Regions from separate parts of the Homo sapiens genome. Here region 2 is linked to region 1. A link means that fine-mapping ties the variant in region 1 to the expression of a gene that starts in the linked region. Tissue or cell type: whole blood. Region 1 holds a variant in brackets; the other region holds the start of a gene. All regions are shown on one strand. Distances are between the middles of the regions. Region 1 has its middle 39 kb from the start of NFKBIZ. Region 2 holds the start of NFKBIZ (NFKB inhibitor zeta).

Region 1 (16,078 bases):
GAGCAGGCAGACCCTGTGGTGCTTGATGATTATTTTGAAAGTTAAGTTGTTACTCTGGTTTTGGTTGGTGGTTGAATGATGGACACCCCCATCTCTTTTTTTTGAGACAGGGTGTCACTTTGTCACCCAGGCTGGAGTGCAGTGGCGTGATCACTGTTCACTGCAGCCTTGACATTCTGGGTTCAGGCTCAAGTGATCCTCCCATCTCAGCCTCCTGAATAGCCAAGGCTACGGGCATGCACTACCATGCCCAGCTAATTTTTTTGTTTGTAGAGAGGAGGGCTTGCTATGTTGCCCAGGCTGGCTTGTACTCCTGGGCTTAAGCAATCCTCCTACCTTGGCCTCCCAAAGTGCTGTGATACCAGGCGTGAGTCACTGTGCCTGGCAAATGACAGATATTCTTTTTATCTGAAGTGTGAGAGGCCATGGTTACCAGGGAAGAACTCCAAAAGCTGCAGCACTTAACGCAGTGTCCTCATACTCTTTTATTTCTTCTTGGCACGTTGATACCTGTACACACAGATTCATACGCACTTTATACATACCCACTATCGATTCTAAAGTAATATGACTGTTTGACAAACACACCTGAACTTATATATCCAAATGTAGCCTACCCCTTTCCACATGAAAGCATATTTCTACATTCTGATTTTCCAGCTTCGGGGATTTCACTTTTTGGGAATGTTTTATTTGTTTGTTTGTTTTGTTTTGTTTTGTTTTTTTTAGACGGAGTCTTGCTTTGTGGCCCAGGCTGGAGTGCAGTGGTGCGATCTTGGCTCACTGTAAGCTCCGCCTCCTAGGTTCACGCTGTTCCCCTGCCTCAGCCTCCCGAGTAGCTGGACTACGCCTGCCACCATGCCCGGCTAATTTTTTTGTATTTTTAGTAGAGATGGGGTTTCACTGTGTTAGCCAGGATGGTCTTGATCTCCTGACCTTGTGATCCGCCCCCTTCGGCCTGCCAAAGTGCTGGGATTACAGGCGTGAGCCACCGCGCCCAGCCGAATGTTTTGTTTTTTTAAAACCTTCCAGGGTAGTAAGTTTTGCTCCTTAGAGTGGGTTTGGTTTTTTGAGAACAGCTTAACATCATTTGAAACCAAGTGAAGTAGACGAGCAGTCTGAGTAACATAAATAGTGGTAGAACATGAGCAGAGGGCCTGAGCAATTCTGCCTGAGGAGTTCCCATTTCTTGTTGTTCTAATCTCTTTTATAAAGAGCTGCCAGAGTCCACTTTTAAAATCTGAACTCTGGGGATGAAGTTTTTTGATTCCAAGGCCTCCTCTTTGCAGAATAAAAGTATCAAGACCTTCCCTAATTAAGCTCAACCTAACTTTACAGACTTACTTCCTATGCTAGTGCCATTAACTCTGGTTGCTTACATTGAACTACTTGACTTTCAATATGTACCAACCTGATGCCTTTGCCCACGTTGTTCCTTATGGAATAGCCTTTCCTTATTCCCATTGATTTATATTTATTACCCCCTTTTTGCAGAAGTTTTAATGTGGCCTTCATCATTCCTGCTGAATTCCTACTTATCTTTAGAGATCTATATAATGACAGTTTCTCTGTTTTCCAAATTGTAAGTTAATCTCTCTGAGCTCTAATAGTACTTTGTGTTGACTTCTATCTTTTAGTATAGCTACTAGAACTACTAAGTTTTTGGTTTAAGTGCCTTCAGTTTTGTATGACTAGCCTTTAGCAGTGACTTATATTAGTATATAGTAAGTGTTCAATGTTTTTAGCATTGATCCTGAAGACAATTTCTTTCTTTTTTTTACTAGAGACAAGGTCTCACTATGTTGCCCAGGCTGGTCTTGAACTCCTGGGCTCAAGTGATCCACCTGCCTTGGCTTCCCAAAGTGCTGAAATTGTAAGCATGAGCCACCATGCCAAGCCCTGAAGACAATTTCAGAGGGGACCCCCCAAGACATTTTGAGTAATGAATGTAGCTTTTCAAGGATATTTTAAAGATAATACTTGTTTGGCATATATATTCTATATTCAAATTTCTTTTTTTTTTCTTGATTCCATACCATTAGAGAGATCCATAATGGCAGATTGCTTGTTCACTAGCTCTTCCTACAAAGTGACTTTGAAAATCTTCCCATAAAGAGGCAGGATCCATATTTCCTACCCTCAAATCTGGATTCAGAAGTGATGCTACATTACTCCTGAAGCTAAGTCATAAAAGCAATATGGCTTCTGCCTGTTTCTCTTGAGGCACTTGGGACCAGCCACCATGCTGTAAAGAAGCTTAAGTAGCCTGCAAAAAGGACTGTGTGGAGGGGAATCTGGCCCACAGTCCTGACTGAAGTCTTAATTGACAGCCAGCACCAGCATACCGGCCATACAAGGGAGCCATTTTGAAAATGTATCCTTAAGTCTCCCAGTGAGCTGCCCCATCTGAGGAACCATGGAGCTGAGATAAGCTGTTCCCACTGAGTCCTGTCCAAGCTATAGATTTATGAGCAAAATAAGTGATTTTTGTTTTAAGCTACTAAATTTTGGAGTTTTTTGTTATGCAGCAATAGGCAACTGATCTATCTTGTATATAGGTCATAGATCACAAAATTTTGATTTGTAAGTCCTAGGCATGATCTTATTTCCCTGTTTCAGAGATAGGAAATGAATAATCCAGAGTGCAAGTAGATTTCAGGTATACTATTATTGTGTTCATCTGGCTGGAGGAAGATGGTTTGAAGAAAAGACTCCCGGATCTGAAGTCAGGAGCCATGGGCTTGAGGTGGAATTTGGGCAAGAGGCCTAATCTCCCTGAGCCCAGTTTATTTTCCTGTTAAATGGGAATAATAATAACAGACCTGTATTCATCTTTCTTCTTCCCCCATTCATTCACTTACTTAACAATGATTTATAGATTAACTGCAATGAGCTGTGCAAGCAATAAACATATAAAGATAAATATTACAAATTTCTTGTTTTCATGGAGTTCATAGCTTACTGGGAGACAGTAACATAATGAAGCTATTATTTCAAAACAGTGCAATAAGTACCATTATAGAAATAAGTATAGGGTTAAATTGTGACTAGAGGGGAGAGTAGTAAGTTCTGCCTTTGAGTGGTGGGGGCAGTTTCATAGAACAGGAGACACTAGATTACTCTGTCAAAGGATGAGTATGTGTCACCAAATAGGCAAAGATCAAAAGGGCATTCCAGAGAGGAAAGATATATAAAGGCATAAATGCATAAGAAAGCATTATGTCTTCAGTCAACTCTAAAAATTTGAGGCCTAGAGGGTAAGAAACAAGATTAGAGCCAGGCAAGGAACAGATATTGGAGAGCCTTGTGTACCATGGAAAAGAGTTTGGGTTTTGTGTAGGTGAAAGGGAACCTCCAAAATAATTAAACTACAGAGGTAACAGGATTGGGCTGTAATTTAGAAAGGTATGTAGTAGTGGAGAATGGACTTTGAGGGAGGCAGTGGAGACAGAGGAAAAAGAAAAACGAGATGCCAGCTGGTCTGGCTGGCTGTTTAGGATGCTAATATAAAAATCCAGGTGAGAATTGATCAAGGCCTAAGGTAAGGCAGAGGCAAAAAGAAAAAGGGAGGATGAGTCAGGTCTGAGAGAGATTTAATAGGCAGAATAGACAGAATTTCTGATGAGGCTTTAAACTGATACAAGGATCAAATGTAATAATATATGCTCAAGTATAAAGTATGTACTCTACAAATATGAGAAACAATTAATTAGTGATAGAATTTGTAATATAAAACATTTTACGTATGACTCCAAAGAAAACATATCAGCACTGTGTGCCTGATCAGGACATATATTTTCTCCAGTGTATCAAAAAACTATATGTAACCTTAGTAGGAAGGGTTGAAGCAATTAATATTTAAATTAACAATTACTTTCTGCTAAATCTTTAATCCAACTCCAGTGACTGTAAAACACTAAACTTGGTGGAAATGGTGGACGCGAGATGGAGAGAAGTAGGAAGAAGGATGGAGAGGAAGGGGGTAATTAGTGTAGAACTCTAACAGATCCATGTCCCACACTCTATAAGGGTCTACAATAGTGTGGACCTTTGCTACCTAGAATCTTCAAAGAAGAAAGTAATCTTTACTGTCCTCCTCAATGGCATTAAGGAAAAGCACCTTCTTAAGTCTCCCTCCATCATATTCCCTCTAGGCAAAAGAGGGCTAACCACATTGGCTGAGACGTGTTGCTTTGTTCATTCCCTACAAAAAAATAAGATCTGGAGGAGTTGATTACACATGTGAGTTGATTGCTCATGGCAATATAAAAATGAGCAAGAACTTGCCTGTTCCTCATGGCTTCATTTACATATTGCCCCAGGGTCTAACTCAGGAAAATCCCAGGATTGACCACACCTTCAGGTAGTATGGGTTTGTCAGGTACATCCAACATAGGAAAGAGGAAAGATATGTACAAAAGGCACAGAGATATGAAACAGAATTTTGTGTTGACTTATTTGCAAGAGTCTGAGACCTGGCATGGTGGGAAATGAGACGGGAGAGAGAGAGAACAAGGGCTAGATCTTGGAGGGCCTCATTGACTTTGAAGGAAATTGGGATGTAGGAGAGAAGAATCCCCAGAAATAACTCAGCCAAGGAAGAACCAGGATCAGGTCATAATTTAGAAAGACCTGAAGTCTGTGTGGAGGATGTTGTGGTCCACAGAAGCCTGGGAAGATCAAGATTTCAAGTCCCTGTTTCCCCAGGAAAAACACATGGGACCTGATCAGGGTGTTTGCATTATAATGCTGTCCAGGTCTGGGTGTTCTTTTTTTTTTTTTTAAATTATACTTTAAGTTCTAGGGTACATATGCACAATGTGCAGGTTTGTTACATAGGTATACATGTGCTATGTTGGTTTGCTTCACCCATCAACTCATCATTTACATTAGGTATTTCTCCTAATGCTATCCCTCCTCCAGCCCCCTACCCCGCAACAGGCCCTGGTGTGTGATGTTCCCTGCCCTGTATCCATGTGTTCTCATTGCTCAACTCCCACTTATGAGTGAGAACATGTGGTGTTTGGTTTTCTGTCCTTGTGATATTTTGCTGAGAATAATGGTTTCCAGCTTCATCCATGTCCCTGCAAAGGATATGAACGCATCCTTTTTTATGGCTGCATAGTATTCCATGGTGTATATGTGCCACATTTTCTTTATCCAGTCGATCATTGATGGGCATTTGGGTTGGTTCCAAGTCTTTGCTATTGTGAATAGTGCCACAACAAACATATGTGTCATGTGTCTTTATAGTAGCATGATTTATAATCCTTTGAGTATATACCCAGTAATGGGATTGCTGGGTCAAATGGTATTTCTAGTTATAGATCCCTGAGGAATCACCACCCTGTCTTCCACAATGGTTGAACTAATTTACACTCCCACCAACAGTGTAAAAGTGTTCCAATTTCTCCACATCCTCTCCAGCACCTGTTGTTTCCTGACTTTTTAATGATCGCCATGCTAACCGGCATGAGATGGTATCTCATTGTGGTTTTGATTTGCATTTCTCTGATGACCAGCGATGATGAGCATTTTTTCATATGTCCATTGGCTGCATAAATGTCTTCTTTTGAGAAGTGTCTGTTCATATCATTTGCCCACTTTTTGATGGGGTTGTTTTTTTCTTGTAAATTTGTTTAAGTTCTTTGTAGAGTCTGGATATTAGCCCTTTGTCATATGGGTAGATTGCAAAAATTTTCTCCCATTCTGTGGGTTGCCTGTTCACTCTGATGATAGTTTCTTTTGCTGTGCAGAAGCTCTTTAGTTTAATTAGATCCCATTTGTCAATTTTGGTTTGTGTTGCCATTGCTTTTGGTGTTTTAGATATGAAGTCTTTGCCCATGCCTATGTCCTGAATGGTATTGCAGGTCTGGGCATTCTTAACTCAAGGGATCCTTGAGTAAAAGTGATAGTGGGATCTTTACACTGATCCCACTAACAGCAAGTTACCAGGTCTTCATTTTCTTGCCATCCTTTTAATCACAGATAAGTGTTCTTCATACTGGCCTTCCCTCTCATCTCTAGCCGGAAAACCATTGGTACTTGCCCCAGGTAGGAGGAGGAGCAGAGAACAGAAGGTTTCTGTGGAGCTGCGTTAATCACCAAGGAGAGGCAGATGGCTCCAAGCCCACAGAGTGTGACCCAGGTAAGTTTAAAAGTGTGGCCGAAACCCAACAAACACCTCCCTGTAATTTTGCCCTCTCTACCCTTAGGTGAAAATGAGTCAAGCAAGGGAGTAGCCAAGCAGAATGCTGGGACAGTCATGGTTCTTTACAGACAAGGAGGCCCCATGGTCTTCATTAGGGAGAGAGGAAGATTTTCAAGGGGTTCTGGAATTTTCTGATTTTTCAATTGTTTTCCTGTTTCTTCTTTTTTTAAATTTAATTTAATGTAATTTTTTTTTTTTTTTTTTTTTTTTTTTTTGGTGACAGGGTCTTGCTCTGTTGCCTAGGCTGGAGAGCAGCGGTTCAATCATAGCTCACTGTAACCTCAAACTCCTGGGCTCGAGCAATCCTTCTGCCTCAGCCTCCTGAGTAGCTGGGAATGCAGGTGCGTGCACCCACCCCTGGCTAATTATTATTATTTTTTTGTAGAGATGGAGTCTTACTATGTTGCCTAGGGTCTTGAACTCCTGGCCTCAAGGGATCCTCTCACCTCGGCCTCCCAAAGTGTTGGGATTACATGTGTGAACCATTGCGCCCAGCCTACTTTTCTATTTCTTTAGCTTTCTTTCTCATTTTGCTCTCTAGCACAGTAAATTTTCCTCTATTATTTAGAAAACCTATCCCTGTGCTGAGTATTTAATAGATTATTAAAATTTGCCATGAACTTATTTTATTTTAAAAGGTTAAATAGGAATGAGGAAGCAAAATTTAGATGAAGTAGATTTGTTAATCACTGGAGGTAGAAAGAGAGTTTCAGTAATCTGTTGCTGCAATCATTGACTCTCTAGTCCAAGAGGCATCTTGAAGACCAGTGCCTCTGATTTGATTTTCCCCTACAATCCTAAGCAGTGGTTTCCCTGATGACCATGAATATATATAGCATAGGCATCTCATTGCCTTTCCAAGCAGCCCCTCTGACAGCCAGAACTGAAATCTGCTTCTCATAATGGTCACCCACCACTCAGAATTCTACTCTCCTACATGAAATAACTTTTACCATTTCCTTGTAGTAGAGTAGCGGAACAAACAATGACACTAAAATCACAAGCACAGCAACCAATGCAGCAAAAGCTAGGACCAGTGCCACATGTTTTGCCATCATCACTTTTTTGATTGACTGCATTTGCTGTCCTTTGCAAACTGTTGCTCTGTCCCTCCTTCCCTTTAGCCTGCTCTTCCAATAAGTAAAATATGGAGAATCTGGTCTTTACTAAGAGTAGCATAAATGTAGTTCTTAAGTCATTCCCAATTTGGAGCACTCTACACTATACTATCCTGAGCTTCGGATTAAGGCCTGAGTTTTCCTGACTTGAAATTTGAAGGGAATTCTTTTTGTTGTTGTTTTTCCTGGTAAGACTCTGCAGCTTTGCTGAGAAGAACCTAGTGGATAGGGAATATCCAATTTCTTATCTCCTGGCAACATGAGATTTCCAGAATCTTCCACAATCACTAAAGGGTCAGATCTTTGAGACTTCATCCCTTTGTTATAAGGTGACTTAGCAACAACAGTTTGGTTGCAATTGAAGATGCAGTTTTGAAGTATTGTCTCTTTTTGTGGCCTTTCTTCCTCCCTCTCTAAAATGAGTGAGTAGGTGGGTGAATGTGTATGGCAAAAGATGGGAGGAAAAGGTGGGCCAGGCAGTTGGAATTGTTTCTTAGTGTGGTTGGGTCTCACAGCTTTTTATGGTTGTTTTGCTCCTATCCTCCAGGCCCCTTTGGCCAACTCCTTCCCCACCCTTTCATCCTAAAGCCCCCAAAACCACAACCACAGTCAAATAATTAAACACACGAAACAAATAAAACTGCTTCTGTGTGAATATGTTTCTCTGGTCATGCCATCCCTGTGAGAGACGCCTCCCTCGTAAACAGTAACAGGCAGAATTTCTCTAGCAAGGCAGGCACACAACAGACTCTGCACCTTCAAGGCAGAAGCAGAAGGGAAGGCCAGTGCCTCTGGGTTAGGGCCTGTTGGTTCTTGGAAGGCACTCCCAAGAATCCTGGCAAACTCTGCAGGGAGAGGAAGACAAAAATTTCCAGTGTTTGCAGCCAACAGGGCCACGTGTTCATTCAATAAAATTTATGACTTGGTTGGTCTCTATGGGCTTCTGGCTGAGTGAAGGTGAGAGAAATCTGTGGTAATTGCAGATCTGGCATGACCAAAGATGAGCCAATTTTAAACAACCTTCTAATGTAAACTTTTAAGGAGACATTTAAAACTTCGAGCTTGAGGCTCATGTCTGTAATCCCAGCACTCTGCGAGGCCGAGGTGGGAGCATTGCGTGAGGCCAAGAGAGTTTGAGACCAATATGAACTACATAGTGAGACAGTCTCTATAAAACATAAAATTATGCCTTAGTCCTAGCATCTTGGAAACCTGAGGTGGGATGATTGCTTGAGCCCGGGAGTTTGAGTCTGCAGTGAGCCATTACTGTACCATTGCACTCCAGCCTGAGCCACAGAGTGAGGCTCTGTTTCTAAAAGACAAAATAAAAAAGATAAGAAAAAACCCTGTCTCAGAATCCTAAAATCCAACTAAAGGGTTAAGTTCTAAAAATGATAATTATGAATTTTGCAAATTTCCTGTCCTTATAGTCCCAGCATGGAGTGACAAGGTTATTGGTGAGCACTAACACTCAACTGAGAAGCTTTCAGAAAATACTGT[T/C]ATCTGGGGCTTACCAAAGACCAGTTAAATCAGAAATACTACCAAGTGGGGTATTTATATCCCTGTAAAAGTTCTCCGTGAACTTAATGGGCAGTCAGGGTTCAGCATCACTGCATTGAATAAACCAGTCTATGAAAGTCTTGCTAGAGGTTTTCTCAGGCTTTTTTTTTTTTTTTTGAGACAAAGTCTCACTCTGTTGCCCAGGGTGGAGTGCAATGGCGTAATCTCAGCTCACTACAACCACCGTCTCTCAGGTTCAAGCAATTCTCCTGCCTCGGCCTCCTGAGTAGCTGGGACTATAGGCGCATGCCACCACACCTGGCTAATTTTTTATTTTTAGTAGAGACAGGGTTTCACCATGTTGGCCAGGCTGGTCTCAAACTCCTGACCTCAGGTGATCCACCCACCTCTGCCTCCCAAAGAGCTGGGATTACAGGCGTGAGCCACTGCGCCCGGGGGTTTACTCAGTTTTAACATTGTGCCACATTGCTATATTTTGTGACTAGAGATGATATGGGCCCTCAGGGAGAGGAACTGATGATAGCTGCTGGAGTCTGAACAGGGCTTAGTCTGAGGAAGGAGGAAAACCAACAGAGAACAGAGTCAAGGACAGCAAAGGAGGAAGAAGACGTTTTAAGGAGTATGGCCTGGTCAAAGTGGTCTGGTCCTACAATGCAATAACTTGAAATGTCTCCATATTGTACAACAGGTGGATTATTGGTGACCTTAGTGAGATCAGCTGCAGTGAGATTTCACTTGGCTGAGGAGATAAGGAAACAGAGATAAGTGTGGACTAAAATTTTCAGAATTCTGGCCAGGCGCAGTGGCTCACGCCTATAATCCCAGCACTTTGGGAGACTGAGGCGGTCGAATCACGAGGTCAGGAGTTCGACACCAGCCTGACCATTGTGGTGAAACCAAGTCTCTACTAAAATTACAAAAATTAGTCAGGCATGGTGGTGCCTGCCTGTAATCCCAGCTACTCAGGAGGTTGAGGCAGGAGAATCACTTGAACCCAGGAGGCAGAGGTTGCAATGAGCTAAGATCGTGCCACTGCACTCCAGCCTGGGTGACAGAGTGGGACTTTGTCTCAAAAAAGGAAAAAAAAAAAAGTAATTTTAGAATTCTAGCTGAGAAGCAACAGAAAGTCTTAAAAGATGTCAAAAGACAGAATTACAATAAATTTAGTTTAAAAATTGAATTGGCTTTATTTGCAATTCTAGAATCAGCAACACCTCATTCTGAGGGTTCCAATTTGCTGAGCAGAGGAGGTTGGCTTTATGGGCAGAAAATGGCTGAAGAAAGTGGAAATGAACAACAAAAAATAGATTGGTTGTTTCAAAGTGACTTTCCTTATAGGGTTAAAACAGAGGGGACTTCCTTATTACACTGACTCAGGTTGACTGGAATCTCCTAATTTTTAGAAAATGAGCTCATTTCAAAGTTCACTTTGATTATGTGGCACTTAGTACAAGTGACCTCATTCTGGTTTGGTCTGGCCTGCCAGGGCCTAGTGCAGGAGGCTAGCCCAAAACAATAGCCTCCCATAAACTTTAACAAAAGGGATACAGGATTCAGGAATTTTAATTTTTTTATTTTGTATTTATTCAATAATGGGTTAGATCTGAGTGTGTGTGTGTGTGTGTGTATATATATAAATAATATACGTATACGTATACGTATAACATATGTATATGTATACATATATGTATAACATATGTATATGTATACGTATATGTATAATATATGTATAACATATGTATATGTATACATATATGCATAATATATGTATAACATATGTATATGCACACATATATGTATAACATATGTACATGCACACATATATGTATAACATGTATATGCACACATATATGTATAACGTATACGCACACATATATGTATAACACATGTATATGCACACATATATGTATAACATATGTATATACACACATGTATAACATGTATATGCACACACATGCATAACATGTATATGCACACACATATGTATAACATGTATATGCACACAATATGTATAACATATGTATACACACACATATATGTATAACATATGTATATGCACACATATGTATAACATATGTATACGCACACATATATGTATAATATATGTATAACATGTATATGCACACATATATGTATACTATATGTATAACACATGTATATGCATACATATGTATAATATATGTATAACACATGTATATGCATACATATGTATATGTATAACACATGTATATGTATACATATGTATAATATATGTATAACACATGTATATGTATACATATATGTATAATATATGTATAACACATGTATATGTATACATATATGTATAATATATGTATATGCTAAGGAGAGGGAATGGATGAAAATATAGGAGGCTAGAGGGAGTAACATGGCTCCTGAAAATGTACAGGAATGGAAGTAGTAGCCTTGGACAGGAAGAAAGAAGAGACTTCACTGTCATTGTAACAGAGAGGAAGAAGCAGTCCCTGGTGTGGATGCAAAATGTTTAGGCAGGGGCATGGGTAGGAATGTGAGGACCTGTTTGCCTCATGGCCTCTAATTCACTGTAAAGTGGAGGTAAGATCATTTGCAGGGTTTCTTAGTAAAGCCATTGCCCTCTGAGGTCTCTGGAACCATTGAGATAGAATGAGGCCACAGCTGAGCACACCCTCATTTCTCACTCCCTCCTGACACACAGAAGAGGGGACAGGTGCTATGTCTGCTGGGAACTGAGGTGCGGGCAGTATGGGAGACAGTTGGTTCCCTCTGTGTGGCTTTCTCCATCTCACATCACTCCTTACCTCCACTCATGCATTCGCCTGCCTCCTGCAGACTGCAGAGCCCTTCTGTTTTCTGTCTGTTCATTGTTCCTTCTTTCCTTCCATTGTGTCAGAATCTCCGCCTTTGATTGGCCACCACTGCTGCTGTCCTTAAGTGTCTTTGCCTTTTGTTATAAATGCTGAAAGTCTGATAATGTATCACTATTGATAGGTAATCAGAGGGCTCTTTTCCTTCCACAAGACTTGCTGATAAATAAAGGGTATTGGAAGTCATTATATACCATTCGAAACATTTCTAGCCTTCTCAAAAATAAAAGACCAAATTCAATGGTGAGTATGAATAAATAATGAAGGGCCGGGTTTCTGGGCCAGTGATCTTTCATCTTCATCTTGCTGTTTCTGTTCTTCACTTCTCCAAGCTCAAGCCTGGGAAAGGTGTGATGAAGGCTATCAAAGATGAATTCAAAATATAGTATGCAACAGCTACCAAAGGGCAACTTCATATTGATTTTCCTTTCAATGAGCCACAGGTCTGGCTTACTTGGTTTAACATCCTGCTAGAATCAGGCAGTCTTTGGACTCAGTTCAGCAGTTTCTGGTTGGCATGAAGATTCATCTAATGGAGAAATTGAGAACACTAAAGAATCTTTAATTGTGGTAAAATGCACATAAAATTTACCATCCTAACCACTTTTCAGTGTACAGTTCAGAAGTGTTAAGTATATTCACTTTTTTCCTTACATGAATACATAAGTAGCACACTTTGTGTGTGTGTATGCAACCAATCTCCAGAATTCTTTTCATCTGTAAAACCGAAACTTTGTATCCATTAGACAACTCCCAATTTCTCCCTCCCCCTAGCTCCTGGCAGCCACCATGTACTTTCTGTCTGTATTAATTTGATGATTCTTGGTGCCATATATGAGTGGAATTATACAGTATTTGTCTTTTTGTGACTGGATGATTTCACTTAGCATAATGTCCTTAAGGTTCTTCCATGTTGTAGCATGTGTCAGAATCTTCTTCCTTTTTAAAGGTGAATAATATTCCATTGGATGTATATGCCATATTTTGTTTATCCATTCATCTGTTGATGAACACTTGGGTTGCTTCCTACCTTTTGGCTATTATGAATAATGCTGCTATGAACGTGGATGTATAAGTATCTGTATGAGTTTCTGCTAATTCTTTTGGGTGTCTACCCAGAGCTGGAATTGCTGGATCGTATGGTAATATTTTTTAATATTTTTTTTTTTTTTTTGAGACGGAGTCTCACTCTCGCCCAGGCTGGAGTGCAGTGATGCTATCTCGGCTCACTGCAAGCTCCGCCTCCCGGGTTCATGCCATTCTCCTGCCTCAGCCTCCCAAGTAGCTGGGACTACAGGCGCCTGCCACCACGCCCGGCTAATTTTTTGTGTTTTTAGTAGAGATGGGGTTTCACCGTGTTAGCCAGGATGGTCTCGATCTCCTGACCTCGTGAGCCGCCCACCTTGGCCTCCCATAGTGCTGGGATTACAGGCGTGAGCCACTGCGCCTGGCCTAACACTTTTTAATTTTTTAAGGAACTGCCATACTGTTTTCTACAGTGGTTGCACCATTTTACATTCCTACCAGCAGTACACAAGGGTTTCAATTTCTTCACAGCCACACCAACACTTTTCTATTTTTTGATAGTAGCCATCCTAATGGGCAGCATCTTGGGGTTTTGATGAACATTTGTCTGATGCTTAGTGATATTAAACTTCTTTTCCTGCGCTTATTGGCTATTAGTATATCTTCTTTGAAGAAATGTCTATTCAAGTCATTTGCTTATTTTTAAAGTCAGGTTTTTTGTTGTTGAGATTAAGAGCGTTTTAAGATTTTTGCAGTAAGTATTTAGAGCAATATTGTAGGGTCTTATTAAGTCCAAGGCTTTTTATTTTTCTCCCGTGACTCCGCCACTGTCCCTGCTGTAAAATACAGTGGCTCTTCATGGTAAATTCCAATTTTAAGTAGCATTAAATGTGGCTGTACTCAGTTCTTTATTTTTAACTCATAATATTTGGGTCAGCATTTTTAGATAAAACGGATGCTATGTCTTTTGCCATAGCAAACAGGAAGGTATCTATTATTCTCTTTGCTGATGACATGGTCCTTCACTGAATGGTTGGTTTCTATCAGGAGAAACAGCTTGGTGTCAAGCATGCCATTTTTAGAATGTACTCTTGTTTAATAGAGCTTTATTAAACAGATAGATAAGTATAGTTATATTTCAGGGGTGGTGCTGTGTATTTTGGGACCAGCATCACCCATCGGAGCCATGGAGATTCAATTCTGCTTCAAATTAATAGCTCCACAGGATCCACATGAAAGTTCTTAACTGGCAGGTACAGATGGAAACTAACTTCTATCCTAAAAATCCTTCAGGCCAGGTGTATCTCTTAACGCTGTAGGTGCAGAAATTTAGAGCTTCACCATACTTGTTAGTGTCTTGGAGACATATCCAAAGTTGCTTTGTAGAGAAAAGTCTTATTTACCTGTAGATTTTCTTAGCCTATTCTATGTTTAAGGCCATACTCCTGGGTAAGAGCATAAACTGGACTCTACTTTCCTTAACTGTCTACATGACAGGTGTTTCAGCCCAATACTTTCAATCAGGTATGAACATTATGAACTCATTAGTAAACATAGTTTTGGATTGTCTTCTATGGAAAACTTATTAAAGCCCATATGGGAAAAATGTTATGTGAGAAATACAGCCAAAAAGAGATGCTAAACACTCATTCTTTAGCTTCTCTGAGCTCCTTCCTGGTATTGAGTTGCTATACCCTAAACTCAGTTCTGCAGTGTATTATTGCTCTGTCTCAACAGAAAATTCTGTGCCCAAATTAAGACCTAACAACATGCCCTCAAATTTTACAGACTCTCTCTCTAATATTTGGAACACGAGATTTTTTTTCTTTATTCGGTGGAAGTCAGAAGCAGAGAAAAAGTTGTTTCTGAAAAAAGTTGCTATAGTTTGAAGTTTCCCTCAAAAGTTCATGTGTTGGAAACTTAATACCCAATGCAACAGTGTTGAGAGGGAGGTAGGGCTTAATGAGAGGGCTCCAACCAATGGATTAATGTCATTATTAAAAGAGAGAGTTAGTTATCACAAAGCAGGTTGTTATAAAGTGAGTCCAGCCTTTGATGCCTCTCTGTCTAATGTAATTACTTCTGTCTTCTTCCCTTTCACCATGAGATGACCCTTACCAGACACCATGTTTTTGGACTTACCAGCCTTCAGAACCATGAGTTAAATAAACTTTTGTTCTTTATAAATTACCCAGTCTGTGATATTCTGTTATAGCAGCAGGAAACAGATAAAGAAAAAATTTGTTTTTTAATTTTTATTTTAATTTTTTTTTAGACAGGGTCTCACTTTTTCACATAAGCCAGAGTGAAGTGGCATGAACAGAGCTCACTGCAGCCTCAACCACCTGGGCCCAAGCAACCCTCCTGTCTCAGCCCCCAAGTAGCTGGGATCACAGGCGCATGCCACCATGCCCAGATAATTTTTGTATTTTTTGTAGAGATGGGGTTTTGCCATGTTGCCCAGGCTTGTCTCAAACTCCTAAGCTTAGGCAATCTGCCTTCCTCAGCCTCCCAAAGTGCTGTGATTACAGGCCTGAGCCACTGCACCCAACCAAAGACAAAAATTAAGCTTTTTTTAAAAAATTTTTATTTCCATAGGTTTTTGGGGAACAGGTGATATTTGGTTAGATGAGTAAGTTCTTTAGTGGAGATTTGTGAGATTTTGGTGCACCCATCTCCAGAGCAATATACACTAAACTTAACTTGTAGTCTTTTATCCCCTACCCCCTTCCCACTCTTACTTCTGAGTCCCCGAAGTCCACTGTGTCATTCTTATGCCTTTGCATCCTCATGGCTTGGCTCCCATTTATGAGTGAGAACATAAACATTTAGCCTTTTTTTAAAAAAAAAATTGAGATGGAGTCTCACTATGTTGCCTAGGCTGGTCTCAAATTTCTGAGCTCAAATTATCCTGGTCTTGGATTCCTGAGCTCAAATTGTCCTACTGCCTCAGCCTCCTAAGTAGCTGGGATTACAGGAATGCTTTTTTCTTTCTTTCTTTTTAATTTTTTAAAACAAAAACAATGTTATATAGCCTCATGAATGTCTTTGCCTTTTGCCTTGACTGTCAGAAAATTAGTTTTAAATTCAAGCATTCTCTCAAATCTAATTTTGTTTGATGTTAGTATTTGCTGACTTTGCTTTTTATTTGATGTATGTATTCTTTTTAATAGCTTTATTGAGGTATAATTTACACACCATAAAAATCTGCCATTTGAACTGTACGATTCAATCATTTTTAGTAAATTTACAGAGTTGTGCTGCTATCATCACAACCCAATTTTAGAATAGTTTCATCATCCTGAAAAGACCCTTTTTCCCAACCCCAGGCAACCATT
Region 2 (16,078 bases), 38 kb before region 1:
CATTATGAGATTCTTTTGTGATGTTTTTTCTTTTTCTTTTTTCATTTTCTTTTCTTTTCTTTTTTTTTTTTTTTTAGCTCTTCAGCTGCCATTAGTGTTAGTGTATTTTATGTGTGGCCCAAGACAATTCTTCTTCCAGTGTGGCCCAGGGAAGCCAAAAGATTGAACACCCCTGGTGTGGAGGAATTCTTAGAAGAATTCCTGGCATTCCAGCATTCCATTGGTATGCCGATGGCAGTCTGGAGGATGGGTTTTAAGTGGGCAAGGCTGGATGGGTGATCATTTGCATCAAGTAAGAGATAAAGGCCTGTCTTGGATAGTGGAAATTAGAGATGGAGAAGAGAGGAGGGTTTCAGAACCAGGTGTTCAACAATTATGAGTCCAATCTGGAACTTTTGAGTTGACTGATAGGACATTGCCTACATTCGATCCCTAAAAATTATTTAAATCTGTACTTACTAATTTATTTTTAAAAACTGTATTTTCTAAAAAAAAAAAAAAAAAAAAAAAAAAAACTTCATGCAAACAGTATTGTTTCACATCTTTGCAAATTTCTTAACATCCGGTTTTACAGAAGACAGATTTTCATATTTGCTTCTGCATTTAATTTGTTGCAGTTGACCAGGTGCAGGGGTTTACGCCTGTAATCCTAGTGACTTGGGAGGCTGAGGTGGGAGGATCACTTGAAGCCAGGAGTTCCAGACAAGCCTAGGCAACACAGCCAGACCCCATCTCTACAAAACATGAAAAATAAAAAAAATTAGCCAGGCCTGGTGGGGCATGCCTGTAGTCCTAGCTACTGGGGAGACTGAGGTGGGAGGAGAGACTGAGCCCAGGAGTTAGAGGTTACAATGAGCTATAATCATGCCATTGCACTCCAGCCTGAGTGACAGAGTGAAACCCTGTCTCTTAAAAAAGAAACATGTGTCACAATATCTTATGTTGGTGAAAGTATAAAGAAAATCTGGTCTCATACACAAATGTAGTTGGTAAAGGAAGAAATAGCTTAATAGTCTTTTCAGGTAATTTGGATATTCTAATTTAATATTATACCAAAACAAGTGGTAGTTCCTTAAAGGAGAGATGCAAGATGGAACCTGAAACCATATCAATGAACTTTTTATCTTCTGATGCATTAAAATCCATTGGCCACATCTTCTGATACATTAAAATCCATTGGCCACTTTGAATGGCTCTTTCACCCATGTGTGATTTTATAATGTCTTGCATTGTTCATTTGGAAATTATTAGTTAATTGAGTTATGCAAATTTTCTAAATGTTGCCACATTTCATTATATAATATAAAAAAATCACATTTGTTAATAGCGCATCATCACTGGGCTCATCAAAAAAGTCTTCTAGAACTAGGAAGCTATCAAGCTCAAGGTGTCCAACAGAAGTTTCCCAAAATTGTAATTTTTATTGAAAAACTTGAATTTTATTATTGGCAACAAATACTGTTATTTTCCTTAACATGACAGGCTCACTTTGTTCATTAAAACACAAAACCAAACCAAACCAAAAACTGACAAATACCTGAGTCTGAAACAGTTTGTCAGTCAAGTATAATTGGTGTTCCATGAAAAACAGAGGGCAGTTCAGCTCACAACTCAAACAGTATTTGATTAGAACAAATGGCAATGACATACTGTTCAAGCTAATAGACAAGTGCATTTCCTTGAGACAATTGTCATATTTCAGGATGCAGCACAAACTTCTATGCATATTTCCCATCTTGCCACATAAAATATTAAAATGATGTATACAAGAGTCAATTAATATTGTTACTGCTTCATCCAGGACTTTTTAGGTGAAACTGGCTTTTATTCTTTTTCTTTCTGCAAGTAGACAGTGGTGAAGAATACAATGATTACTAGTTCATTTTGTTGCTGCTGCCTTGATTTGTTTTAAGGCACCATTAGTTATACCCATTGCTTTTGTACCATCATTTCAAATGTAAACACAATTGTTTCAGGATAAATGATGAGATTCGAAAAGTTATTGTACATTTTGAATGTTTCAGCATTCCTTGTGTTTGTTGTCATGCATTAAAATAAAACACCTTTGATGACTGGCCGGTGCTGGAAATGAATATAACCGAAATAGCAAGTCCAGACAGTCCATAGATCTATCCATTTCTAAGGCAAAAGTGCAATTTTGCAGACAAAACCAGTTTGCAGTTAAGTCTTTAATTCAGTGAGCTGCTGCATTGTTGCAAAGTGGCAGTGCTGTGATTTCTTTTGCTGACTTTTCATCTAGAAAATATTCAGCAAAATAAACTCTACCAGGCTTTATTGGTCTTTCACCTATGATGTTCATTTCTTCAGCCAAAGCAGTACAATAACTTATCCTGTAAGATACTGGCTTTTTCATCTCAAGTTTGAAAAGCTGTTCCAAATTGTCTTTGGCTTTTCAAAAGTTCATTACATCTACACTTAAAAATCCAATTCTGGCCGGGCACGGTGGCTCACGCCTGTAATCTCAGCACTTTGGGAGGCTGAGGAGTGGGGGATCATGAGATCAGGAGATTGAGACCATCCTGGCTGACACGGTGAAACCCCGTCTCTATTAAAAATACAAAAAATTAGCCGGGCGTGGTGGCGGGCACCTGTAGTCCCAGCTACTCGGGAGGCTAAGGCAGGAGAATGGCGTGAACCCGGGAGGCGGAGCTTGTGGTGATCCAAGATCGTGCCACTGCAGTCCAGCCTGGGTGACAGAGCGAGACTCTGTCTCAAAAAAAGAAAAAAAAAATCCAATTCCTTTTTTTTTTTTTTTTTGAGACAAGGTCTTGCTCTGTCACCCAGGCTGGAGTGCAGTTGTATGATCATAGCCTACTGCAGCCTTGACTTCTTGGGCTCAAGTGATCCTCCCACTTCGGCCTCCCAAGTAGCTGGGACCACAGGCATGTGCCACCATGCCCAGCTAATTTTTAAATTTTTTATTTTATGTAGAGATGGGGTCTCATTATATTGCCCAGACTGGTCTTGAACTTCTGGGCTCAAGCAATACTTCCTGCCATGGCCTCCCAAATTGCTGGGATTACAGGCGTGAGCCACTGCACCCAGCCCAGCCCTCAATTCCTTTTTTGAAACTCTGGATTATTGGTCTCAAGATAGTGTTACAATGTTAATTGACACCATAAAACTAAAAAATGTTCTATTGCATAAGATACAATAAGGTAAATTATTAACATTTATAAAGCCTGGGGAAAGATAGCGTTCTCATATTTTTATTTCTTCTTTACAGTTTCTTCCAGTAGCTTTGGATTAGATTTCTCCCCTCTATGAGTTGTCACAGAACTCTCTGATGTATCATTTCATCTTTTTCAGTATCTTTAGATGTAGACAGTACCTCTGAGCCTGGAGTAAATGAATCCTCTAATCTCGTTTTTTAAAGCAAAAGATGAGGCTTCAGAGTCAGTTAGATGAAGATTTCAATCTCTTCTTTGCTTTCGATGGAGCAGTGTAACTGGACAAATTCTCAAGGCCCCATATTTCGTATACAGTTTTTGTGCATCAGAAATCTCTTGAGTGTTTTTGAGGGTTCTGGTTCAAAGTGTCTCGTAAGACTATAGTCAAGATGTTGGCCAGAGCTGCAGTCATCTGAAGGCCCGATGTGCAGCTGGAGAATCTACTTTCAAAGTAGCTCACTCACATGGCGGGCATATTGGTGCTGGCTGTTGGCCTCAGTTGACTTTTCCAGACAGTGTCCTCGTAACATGGTGGCTGTCTCCCACAGCATGAGTGTTCAACCATATTTGATTAGAACAATGGCAGCATCCTATCATTCGACTTAATAGATCAAACTGAATTTGTATTTCAACATTTACATAAAGCAAAGTACATTTAAATTTTTTTGTAGCGATATTAACTGTTTTTGATGTGTATGGGAGGGCTTCTGGGCATTGGGGGTTGTGGTCTTGTCAAACAGTACTATTGCTTTGGCATTGCACAGAAAACTTCGTTTTGAAACATTAGTCTTTTGTTGACCATCTTGGTCTAGATTAAGTTCTCCAGAGGCCATGAATTTGTGGCTTGAATTTTCATATCTCATGTAAAATGGGAAGATAATTAATTAAAACAGGAGGATAATTAATTTTGTAAAAAATTACTTTCTACGGATTTATTTGAATGGGCATTTAAATCCTTTATTATACATAAAATATTGGTGGGTAGAAAACAAAATTCAAATAGATTTTATTGAGAAACTCTAATGTATTAGGGTTCTCCAGAGAAACAGAACCAATAGGGTACATATAAATATGTAGAAAGAGATTTATTATGAAGGATTGGCTCACACAATTATGCAGGCCAACAAGTCCCACCATCTGCCATCCATAAGCTGAAGAACCAGAAGAGCTGGTGATGCAGTTCTAGGTCAAGCCTGAAGGCCTGAGAACCAGGTGAGCTGGTGGTGTAAGTCCTAGTCAGAGTCTGAAGGCCCAAGAACCAGGAGTGCTGATGTCTAAGGGTAGGAAAGGATGGATGTCCCAGCTCAAGAAGATAGCTTCAGGCTTTTTGTTCTATTCTGGCCCTCAGTGGATTGCAGAATGCCTGCCCGCATTGGCGAAGGGGGATCTTACTTTACTCTGTCTACTGATTCAAATGCAAATATCTGCCAGAAACACTCTCACAGACATACCCCAAAATGATGTTGTACCAGCTGCCTGGGCATGCCTTAATCCAGTCGAATTGACACATCAAATTAACCATCACACTCAACATCTTATTTGGAGCATCTTTTAAATGATTTTGGTTTCCAAGGAATTGCAATTACTGAAGTCTTGTGTTTTCCACAGATAAACCAAGGGATTTGTTTTCTTTTTTATTTTTTAAAGTTATCAAAAAGTTGGAGGGAGAGGCAGCAAGAAGTTTTAGGGAAATACACTTGTGAGAAACAAGGAAATACAGTCATGCATTGCTTAACGATGCTACATTCTGAGAAATGTGTCGTTAAGTGATTTTGTCGTTGTTTGAACATTATGGAATGCACTTGCACAAACCTAGATAGTCTAGCCTGCTAGTCACCTAGGCTCTGTGGTATAGTCTATTGCTCCTGGTCTATAAACCTGCACAGCATGTTACTGTACTGAATACTGTAGGCAACTGTAACACAGAGGTATTTGTCTATCTAAACATATGGAAACATAGAAAAGAAACAGTAAAAATATGGTATTACAGTCTTACAGGACCACCATTGTACATGGAGTTCATTATTGACTTAAACATCATTTTGTGGGGTATGGCTGTATTTACTTTGGACCTACCCCCACCAGGGTCTTATGCCACCTACTAATACTGAGTAACAATCCAAACTCATCGTGTCCCCCCCTTCGTCCTAAAACCCAAACATTCTGCTCTGTGATCCCTTGTGATCTGGAGCTGGTGGCCCTGTTCACCTGGTCGTGGCTCCAAGCCATGGCCTGACTGGGGACCCTTTCATTTCTCCCCCCCTCCAAAAGAGCGAGACCTGTGGGTTCTGCCCTAGCAATGCTGCCCAGCTCTGCTTTCTGTCAATTTACTTTCTCCTTTCCCACTGTATCTGCCCCAGTGCCCAGTCATTTCTCTCCTGGGCTACTGCAGTGGATCCTAATGGCCTCTGGGCTCCTCATCTTCTCTCAACTGCTTGCAGATTAATTTTGCCTACCTAAAATTCATGTTTTCTCAATGTTTATTAAATAAAATTCCAGTGTCTCAGCTGCTGGAGGTGCTCCACCCAAAGGCACCAAGTTATCTTTTATATTTAATGCCATCTTCTCCTCTTGACAATCGTAAAAGGGGACTATACACTCTAATATGAACCCTCTCCTTAATTCTTTGCTCTTGTTCTTTCTGTAAATGCTGTGGGCCCCAATCCCACCCATCCTTTAGGACCTATCTTAAATGCCACCACCCCTGCAAAGATTTTCCTCCTGACCTCCTTTTTCCTCTACCAGACCTGTTGTTTCTCCTTTTAGGTGGCTCACTGAACTTTGTATCCCTCGTGTTATTTAATCATAATCGGTTTATTTAAACATAGCATGTGTGTACTTAACCTTATCATTCCCGCATTTTTTGCTAGTTGGACTTGAACAAATAGTTGTATAAATCCATTGGAAAAAAGTATTCAAGATAGGAAAGGCCAAAATTACTGTGTTAGTTTATCAGATAGTGTAAAGCTATGCAGAATTTTAAAAGTTATATCTACATATACTACAGCACCTACATGTTTGTGTATTATTTTGCTAAGATGGCTTTGTTCTAGTATTGAAGGATACAGAAGTGTGGCATTACTTTTTATTCATGGCTGCACCTAAAACATTATTTGCGTCCCAGCAGATAATTTGAGAACATAAAAATGCTCCAACATCTCTTTCAGTTCGGGATGTTGCCTAAAACCGTCGACAAACGCTATGTTTGAGAAGGGAGGCTACGCTGGGGCGCCGGAGGAGACAGGCCCTTAAGAACCTTCCAGAGATGCCTTAACTGGGCTAACAGCTCGCCGCGCCGGGGCAGGCAGAGGGGTGCGGGGCGCGCTCCTTCCAGGACTTGCCAGTCCCCAAGAACCAGGCCAACCGGTTCCCTCCACTGACTCCCGCCTCCCTCTGCAGGCCCAGCCCTGCGCCGCGCGCCCTCTCCCCGGGCGCCCAGGCCCGGCGGGGGCCTAGAGGGCAGGGATGGCCCGGGCGAGGGACGGGGTCCCGGAGGCGGGAGGCGGGAGGCGGGAGGCGGGAAGCGGGAGGCTGGAAGCCGCGCGCTGTCGGGGTTTCCCGGTGAAGGGCAGGCAAACAACCGGTCGGTCTGGGCGGAGCCGGGCGGGCGGGGCGAGGGCGGAGGGCGGAGGGCGCATTGCCTCATCCTGTACATTTTACTGGAAATCGGACGCATCCGGAGGAGGGGCTGGGAGGCGGCCCGGGCACCGCCAATGGCCGGGCCGGGCGCCGGGGAGGTCGGCGAGCGCTGCGGCCCGTTAAATACCCTGGCAGTCCCGCGCCGCGCCCGTACTGGCCCGCGCCGTCCGCCCGCCGACAGCTCCCTGAGCCAGCCCGGGAGGCAGCCGCGCGCAGCGAGCCGGTGGCGCAGGTGTCGGGGTCCTCGAGCGCCCAGCCTGGGAGCATGATTGTGGACAAGCTGCTGGACGACAGCCGCGGCGGAGAGGGGCTGCGGGACGCGGCGGGCGGCTGCGGCCTCATGACCAGCCCGCTCAACCTGAGCTACTTCTACGGCGCGTCGCCGCCCGCCGCCGCCCCGGGCGCCTGCGACGCCAGCTGCTCGGTCTTGGGCCCCTCGGCGCCCGGCTCGCCCGGCTCCGACTCCTCCGACTTCTCCTCTGCCTCGTCGGTGTCCTCCTGCGGCGCCGTGGAGTCCCGGTCGAGAGGCGGCGCCCGCGCCGAGCGCCAGCCAGGTACCCGCCGGCCCCGCACCGCTGCGTACTCGGGGCGCGCACGCCTAGGAGGTTGGGAGCGGGACTCCCCAGATGGAGGGTGGCCCCTGCGCCCTCCTTAGAGCTAGGACGTACGCACCTTAGCCATCAATTACCACTCCCCGCCTTGCCCGGGCCGGGCGCCTGCCTGACCTACACGCCCTTCGCCGGCCCGCGGAACCGGCTCCCTCCCGCGGGCCTCGGGGGGGCTTCAGAAACCGCTCGGCCGAGCTCTGACTGCCGGGCGAGTGACCAGGAGATCGCTCGCTCTCTAAGAAGCAGCTTTGTTGAGTCATAATTAATAAACTATGATGAGATTTGGGGTCTGATGTAGGTGTAATTTTCTTCTTGTGAATATTTTAGTGGAAAGCTGTAGCAGAGGATAAGGGTTTGGGAATAGCGTTAAAGGTCATGACTTATTTCTCAGTTTTTATGGAATTTTTCAGTAAAAAGACTTGACCGTCAAAGAAAAGGAAACTGCTGTTATCAAGGTGAAGCCGGGCTGAAAACCAACTCAAGTTATGCCTTTAGTTTGGCGAGTTTCGGAAGTCTGCCCGGAATTTTTGCGGTCTTGTTTTTGTTGTGTGTGCCTTAAAAAAAATGGATAAGCCATATCTAGCAGAGAAAGACGTAATGTTATCTTTCATGGGCTGCGAATTGGTTTCCTTTCTTAGTGAACCGAGTTGCATAATTTGGGGGAAAACAGGATGCCCCTGTGGGTAGGCTAGAAAAACGCCTCGATAATTGAACGTTGAGAGTAATTAGCATGATTTTAAAGAACGTCTCTTTCCGGTGTTTCCCACTCTTAGCCACTCCTGTTTTGGTTGTCATTTATTTTAAAAAGTGATATCTCATTTTCATTTTAAGTCATTTAAAATCATGCGAAAAGCGATTTAAACCACTGCGTAGCAGATCCAGAAAGAATATGTGTTTAGGACCTTTTCTTACCCACTTGGCCTTCATCTGGCTGAAACTGTTCTGCTGGTCCCTTGGTTTACCACACAGCCACAGGGGATTTCTGAAACTGCATTTTTTTCTTTCTGTGACGTTGGATTATGAACTGCTGTCATTCCAGAAAAATGCTGTGTTAGATTCTGGCAATTCTGGTATCTCTTGAAATCCCTAAACTTAAAAATAAAGCCAACTAATGTTTCACTTACCCTATCATTGAACTGTTTATCTCATGTATTTATGATAGATACAGATGTTCAAATTATGCGTTGTTTCTTGCCCCATCTTATTTTTGTACACTTGATGGAGCGGCTGAATTATTCATTTCCTGACTTTGTGAATTTGTGTTCAACACACATACTAAGAGGTTGTGACATAATAGTGATCAGAAGTGGAGTACTGTACTTGTATACCAAATGCTAAAGTGTATTTCAAAGTTTAAAAGTGAAACAAGCATATTTCCTTTTTACTTAGAAGACCTGTGTAAGTAATTCCAAAAACAGTCAATGAGGGGAAATCCTGTGTGCATATGTAGAAATGTGTTTAAGCTCAGTGAATTTAAGCAGCTTTTTTGGCACAGTTGAATTGAAGGAAATAATAAGACATAAATCTAAGACGTTGTTAATTGTCAGGTTTTCGTACATAGAGATCTTTGAAAGAAGTTGTTTTGTGCCTTCTTAGGTAAGCGGAATTGATAGACTTTAAAATTTCTATGTGAACATAAAACCATTGGTTTAAAAAGCTAAAAGTGCATCATTTATCACTTGCTCCCCAAAGTTTTTCCAAAGTCAAGAATAATTATAGAACTATGAGAGTCAGGATGGCAAAATCTGTCATCCATTCTCATGGGTGGTTAGGGCTGAGAAAAAAATGTGATCCACTCTCATGGGTGGTTAGAGCTGAGAGATAGAGAGGCTTAATTTGGGTTTACCTATTGGCTCTGAGGATCCTTGACCAAATTTTTATGAACTTTAATTTCTTAGGGTACCCAGTGGAGAAAGGTATCAGGCAACTTAGGACCTTTGAGCAGAGCTCGGGACTCACAAGGCCATTGATTGACCAGAGCAAGTTGGAAAGGTTTTGCAATGTGCTGCTTGGGGACTTTATACATTAGGCAACAGCTATACTTTTGGGATTATTAACGTTTATGTCTGTGAAGATATTTAACCAGGAATATGTTTTGTTTTCTTTTGAACAGTTGAGCCCCATATGGGGGTTGGCAGGCAGCAGAGAGGCCCCTTTCAAGGTGTTCGGGTAAAGAACTCAGTGAAGGAACTCCTGTTGCACATCCGAAGTCATAAACAGAAGGCTTCTGGCCAAGCTGTGGATGATTTTAAGGTGACATCTATTTTTCTGTTTTGAGTATAGAGTTGGGGAGAGGGGTTAGTCTGTCAGGGTTATTATGATGACCTAGGTCCAGTCATCAAGTAAGTCACTTGAAATTTTTCATAAGATGACAAAGTCCATAGGACAGAGACCATATTTGTCTGGTCTGTTGTATCCTCCTTAGCCCAGTGCCAGACACCTGGTAGGTGGGCAAGAGAAACTCAATGAATAAATAAATGAAGGCAAGTTCAGAGGCTCAACTGAAATGGAACATTTTAACTAGAAAGGGAAAAATCAAATGGTCTTATTAATTTCATCTTGACCTGCGTTGAGCTAAGGTGAAAGTGAAAATGAGGAAGTCGCAAGATAGAATAAAAATTGATATAGAAAATCAATATTGATAGAAAAACCATATCAGAGATTTATGGTAAGCTATAAAGGGTGGTAGAGATAAGCCTACTTACTGATGTATATTAAGAGGAAGTCATTTTGTATACACTAAATTGGAAACTTTTTTCTTTATAGACACAAGGTGTGAACATAGAACAGTTCAGAGGTAAGAGTTACTTGTATTTGTAATTTTTTCAGGGCTTTGGAGTAAATAATAGAGTGTAATTATGGGTAACATTTATAAAATAAAATGATGACAGAGGCTGTATTCCTTTGGGTACAGAATTGAAGAACACAGTATCATACAGTGGGAAAAGGAAAGGGCCCGATTCGTTGTCTGATGGACCTGCTTGCAAAAGGCCAGCTCTGTTGCATTCCCAATTTTTGGTAAGTATCTCACCATTTTCCTCTGACTATCCTTTGGAAATTATTCCTGGGATAATTTTAGAAGGAAGTGAGTGTGCAAGTTGCATTTTCCTTCTTTCCAGACACCACCTCAAACACCAACGCCCGGGGAGAGCATGGAAGATGTTCATCTCAATGAACCCAAACAGGAGAGCAGTGCTGATCTGCTTCAGAACATTATCAACATTAAGAATGAATGCAGCCCCGTTTCCCTGAACACAGTTCAAGTTAGCTGGCTGAACCCCGTGGTGGTCCCTCAGAGCTCCCCCGCAGAGCAGTGTCAGGACTTCCATGGAGGGCAGGTCTTTTCTCCACCTCAGAAATGCCAACCATTCCAAGTCAGGGGCTCCCAACAAATGATAGACCAGGCTTCCCTGTACCAGTATTCTCCACAGAACCAGCATGTAGAGCAGCAGCCACACTACACCCACAAACCAACTCTGGAATACAGTCCTTTTCCCATACCTCCCCAGTCCCCCGCTTATGAACCAAACCTCTTTGATGGTCCAGAATCACAGTTTTGCCCAAACCAAAGCTTAGTTTCCCTTCTTGGTGATCAAAGGGAATCTGAGAATATTGCTAATCCCATGCAGACTTCCTCCAGTGTTCAGCAGCAAAATGATGCTCACTTGCACAGCTTCAGCATGATGCCCAGCAGCGCCTGTGAGGCCATGGTGGGGCACGAGATGGCCTCTGACTCTTCAAACACTTCACTGCCATTCTCAAACATGGGAAATCCAATGAACACCACACAGTTAGGGAAATCACTTTTTCAGTGGCAGGTGGAGCAGGAAGAAAGCAAATTGGCAAATATTTCCCAAGACCAGTTTCTTTCAAAGGATGCAGATGGTGACACGTGAGTATTCTTTTATCTCATGTTCTTAATTAGGTAAGCCACACTTGTTGGACTAGTGAGCATATAATTTTTCTAGGGTATAACAAGGTATACCTTAGTTAGTGGTTGGCTAACCAAGATGACTGGTGTAGATAGAAACCGCCACTCAGTGATAGCTAGTATGTCAAGAAAGGGTTTTCCTTCAAAAAATTTTTTGGCTGAACAGATAATCTGTTCTAAATTGATAAAAATATCTGTATCTTCTTGATTAATTGAGTTTGGAAGACCAGCGTAGACTATGTCTATAGAACAGAAACAGTTAGATCATGATTAGGGATAAACTGTGAGTTGGTTTGTAGATTGATCTTAATCTGTCCTGATGTCTTTGTGGCCTTGGGCAAGTTATTTAACCTCCTTAGGTCTCAGTTCCTTGACGTGTAAAATGATAATACCTCTTGTATAGGGGTTTTATGAGTATTAAAAATAATAGATTTAAGTTGATCAGTATGGTGCTTGACATTCTTCTTTTTCTTATTTCTGATAGCCTAACCCATCCTGTTCCAACTGGGGTGTATTATCAATGTAGCAGAAAAGACAAATTATGCTTTGTAATGTTTCATTTGAGTGTACCAATATATAAAAAGGGGGCTAAAGGAAGATTTTTTTTTTTTTTTCAAAAGAACAACTTAGTGAAATCAGAAGTGATTCACCCGCTTTCCTTTCCATGTTCCCCAGGTTCCTTCATATTGCTGTTGCCCAAGGGAGAAGGGCACTTTCCTATGTTCTTGCAAGAAAGATGAATGCACTTCACATGCTGGATATTAAAGAGCACAATGGACAGGTGAGGACCTTGACAGAGTCTGAAATGGCAAAGAGGGGGTCATGGTGAAGTGAATGATGACCAGCCTTATGTGTAGATCATCTTAGAGCTCAAGATCAAGAGAGTTTAGTTAATATTAACTTTGAGATGTTGACTTTTTGCTACCATCAACCTTGAAGTTATTAATGTTAACTTTGTAGCTGTTTGACCAAACACTGAGAGTAATAAAGCCACACCCTAGGCTTACTTTAGTTTCCTTGTCTTACAGTATCTGATTGCTTATTCAAAGGATTTATTTTCTCTCTGTGGGTTTTTCCCTCAGTCATAGTTTAGTTTCATATTCCTTGTTATGATAACATTGTATGTTTAAAATATCTTTTTTCCTCTGGATATCCACAGAGTGCCTTTCAGGTGGCAGTGGCTGCCAATCAGCATCTCATTGTGCAGGATCTGGTGAACATCGGGGCACAGGTGAACACCACAGACTGCTGGGGAAGAACACCTCTGCATGTGTGTGCTGAGAAGGGCCACTCCCAGGTGCTTCAGGTAAGAGGCAGCAAACCAGGCTTCCATCATTGCAAGGCCAGAGAGATAGAGTTGGATATTAGAAGTCGGATATAGGTTGCCTGTTGCAATGATCTATTTTGAGTTAACTTATTCATTTCTTGGGGATTCTAATAGGTATATGCGCAGCTTATGTAGCTAACAGATGTCTGTTTTTAAAATCTGCAGGCGATTCAGAAGGGAGCAGTGGGAAGTAATCAGTTTGTGGATCTTGAGGCAACTAACTATGATGGTAAGCAACTGAAACTTTATTAGATTCAGAGCCACTTAGGGGGAACCATAAGGTCTAAGGGTGCTAAGTATACTAAGAAGGAAGGTAATTAAAGCTAAAATATTCTGTAGGTAAAATTAGACCCAAAAAGAGACAATATTCAGATTGCCTTACTAGTTCTTGTGGAGCCCATTTATAGGTTAAGTTAGAGGCCATCCTCAGCATTTGTCATTATAGAAGGACCAAAAGACCTGATGGGATGCTTGACCACTGCTTGATTATACTTTTCTTCTAGGCCTGACTCCCCTTCACTGTGCAGTCATAGCCCACAATGCTGTGGTCCATGAACTCCAGAGAAATCAACAGCCTCATTCACCTGAAGTTCAGGAGCTTTTACTGAAGAATAAGAGTCTGGTTGATACCATTAAGTGCCTAATTCAAATGGGAGCAGCGGTGGAAGCGAAGGTAAATTCACAGAAAAGGTTTAAGATGGGGTAGGGGAGAAACTGGTTATATAGCAAAAGACCTTGCTTCCAAGTACAGATTCAAACTTCTTTCTTTTTTTTCTGAAATTAATGGTGTGAGTAGCAATGTATGGGTGGTTAAGAAGCCCAGAATTTTTTTTTTTTTTGAGACAGAGTCTCACTGTGTCGCCCAGGCTGGAATGCAGTGGTGCGATCTTGGCTCACTGCAACCTCCGACTCCCTGGTTCAAGCGATTCTCCTGCCTCAGCCTGCCCAGTAGCTGGGACTACAGGTGCCTACCACCACACCCAGCTAATTTTTTGTATTTTTAGTAGAGACGGGGTTTCACCATGTTAGCCAGGATGGTCTCGATCTCCTGACCTCGTGATCTGCCCGCCTCGGCCTCCCGAAGTGCTGGGATTACAGGCGTGAGCCACCGCGCCCGGCCAAGAAGCCCAGATTTTAACAGATCATTTCATGTGTTTTCTTGATTTGCTTTAAATCCATGAATTATTATCCAAAAGGTCATTTAGGTATAAAATAAATAGTCTTTGAAAGGTAAAGAAAATGCTTGAAATTGATATTGTCATTTTGGCTTCCATTTTCATACACTGAGAATAAAGGTGCTTTTTGTAAGGATTTCTTCATTGTTGTAGGATGTGGAATTCATCTTCTGGTTTTTAAGCTGGAAAATAGTTTATTCTTTTAAAATTTTGGTTTTATTCACTGAGTATATGGGGGAAAAATGCCTAAGTCATAAACCATTTGGACCCTTGAGGCTTACTGACTAGTAAAATAGGTGAGAGATATAGCTAAATATAACTCTACAGGGAGGCTACCAAATCTGGAAATGTAGGTGAATACATAATAAATGGTTTACTGATAGGTTATGACATAGGATTTAAAAATATTTATTTTTCTACATTTTATGGCCACCCTGTATAAAAAGGTACATTGTGACAAGAGGCATATAGACAAATTAATAGGAAATTTAAGAGGAATAAAAGATTCCATTTAGCTTGGGATTAAGCAAGGCATTTTGGAGAAGGGAGCATTCAAAGTGAGTCTCTGAAGCTGAATCAGACATTCAGGAGACTGGGTGAAAAGTGTATTCTGAGGCATAGTATCTGGATTTTTTTTTTTTTTTTTCCTCCCTCTTGCCTTTGACAAGGATCGCAAAAGTGGCCGCACAGCCCTGCATTTGGCAGCTGAAGAAGCAAATCTGGAACTCATTCGCCTCTTTTTGGAGCTGCCCAGTTGCCTGTCTTTTGTGAATGCAAAGGTACACCAGAGTTGGAATGGCCTTCTGTACACCCTCTCAAAGTTTTTGAGCTCCTTTCATGAAATTTCCCCCTTCCTGATGTCTGATAATTCATTTCTTTGTCTTCAGGCTTACAATGGCAACACTGCCCTCCATGTTGCTGCCAGCTTGCAGTATCGGTTGACACAATTAGATGCTGTCCGCCTGTTGATGAGGAAGGGAGCAGACCCAAGTACTCGGAACTTGGAGAACGAACAGCCAGTGCATTTGGTTCCCGATGGCCCTGTGGGAGAACAGGTGAGAGGCACAGGAGGGAGAGGAAGTATTTTTTGGCACTGCAGTCTGAAACAGAAAGGGAGATGAGGCTGTGCAGGGCGAAGGCCAGCTGTTGCTCTTCAGGTGGACTCTATCAGTGTCTGTGTCTCACGGTAGCTGTCATAGCATTGTGGAGTTACTCTTCGTTTGGAAACAGCAATTAAGAAATTTGAGGGATTATCCATAGACTCAAAATGGTTAGAGGTCAGGTAGTATTCTGTGACACACACTTAGGGTTAGAGTAAGTCAGAATGGTTTAAGGTTCGGAAAGAGAAGATACCAAGGTTCCTGCAGATACCAAGGAAAGAGAATCTTAGTCTTGTAATGTATGAGCCTTCAAATATTGTGGATATTAAATGAGTTGTTACATGTGGAGTGCTCACAATAGTCCCGGGTACAGAGTAAGAGATCAGTGAACATCAATAGTTAGAATTATTTCTGTCTATGAAGTGATACTGAACAAAAAATGGAAAAATTACTTATGTAATTTCAAACCTAGAAATATTTTGTTTTAAACAGCATATTTAATGCTTTACTCATCAAATATGGTTATATATTATCATTGAGTATTGAATAGTTTCATGAGTAAACTTTTTAGATAACAAGAACTTATTCTTTCAAGAACTTAAAATGTTTTTGATGGAACTCTTTTCCTGGGAGGAATGAGGGGGATTGTGGCTGTGGGTAGGTCATTACATACTTTACTAATCACAAAATAAAATACGTGGAATGCAGTTTAGCTTTTTCTTTGATTCTGAGCTGTCATTATGACCATAATGTTATAGTAGCCCCTATTTATAGAGCTCTTTGTAATTTAGAAAGAATATTTCTATAGTTTGTAAAAAGTTTTCATGTATATCATTTAATAGTTAGAAGAACTTTACAAGTTTCAAGTTTCAACTGAGAAAATTGATATTCAGAGAGGTTCCAAGGACCAGAACCATCATTAACTTGTAAAAGGCAGAGTCCTAAGCCCAGTATTTGCTTCTACTTCACTGTTTGTGGTGTGCAGTCATATAACTATGCTCTCAGGGATCATTGAGATATTAAGCCATTTAACTCTTCATTAAATGTTCCCAGATTATCTCCTTTTTGCTTTGGTATTTTGTGTGTGTTGGGCAGGTAGAGGCTCTT

What was found. PIP is the estimated chance that this variant, and not a neighbour inherited with it, causes the effect.
Region 2: it holds the start of NFKBIZ, and the variant in region 1 is fine-mapped to the expression of NFKBIZ in whole blood (TOPMed, PIP above 0.99).

What each region holds. Positions count from the first base shown.
Region 1 is chr3:101,880,685-101,896,762 of GRCh38, forward strand. No RefSeq gene overlaps it. Among named protein-coding and RNA genes, the nearest start is that of NFKBIZ, 39 kb to the left of the region's middle. The variant T/C (reference allele first, on the strand shown) is at 8,830.
Region 2 is chr3:101,842,534-101,858,611 of GRCh38, forward strand. NFKBIZ (NFKB inhibitor zeta) reads left to right here and starts at 6,981. Exons shown (of 12, transcript NM_031419.4): 1 at 6,981-7,384; 2 at 9,552-9,691; 3 at 10,205-10,235; 4 at 10,353-10,456; 5 at 10,558-11,330; 6 at 12,045-12,150; 7 at 12,529-12,675; 8 at 12,862-12,925; 9 at 13,200-13,369; 10 at 14,540-14,650; 11 at 14,759-14,926. The coding sequence starts at 7,096. RefSeq lists silencers at 92-386, 6,460-7,659, 6,708-6,879 and enhancers at 4,452-4,581, 6,040-6,877, 6,672-6,966.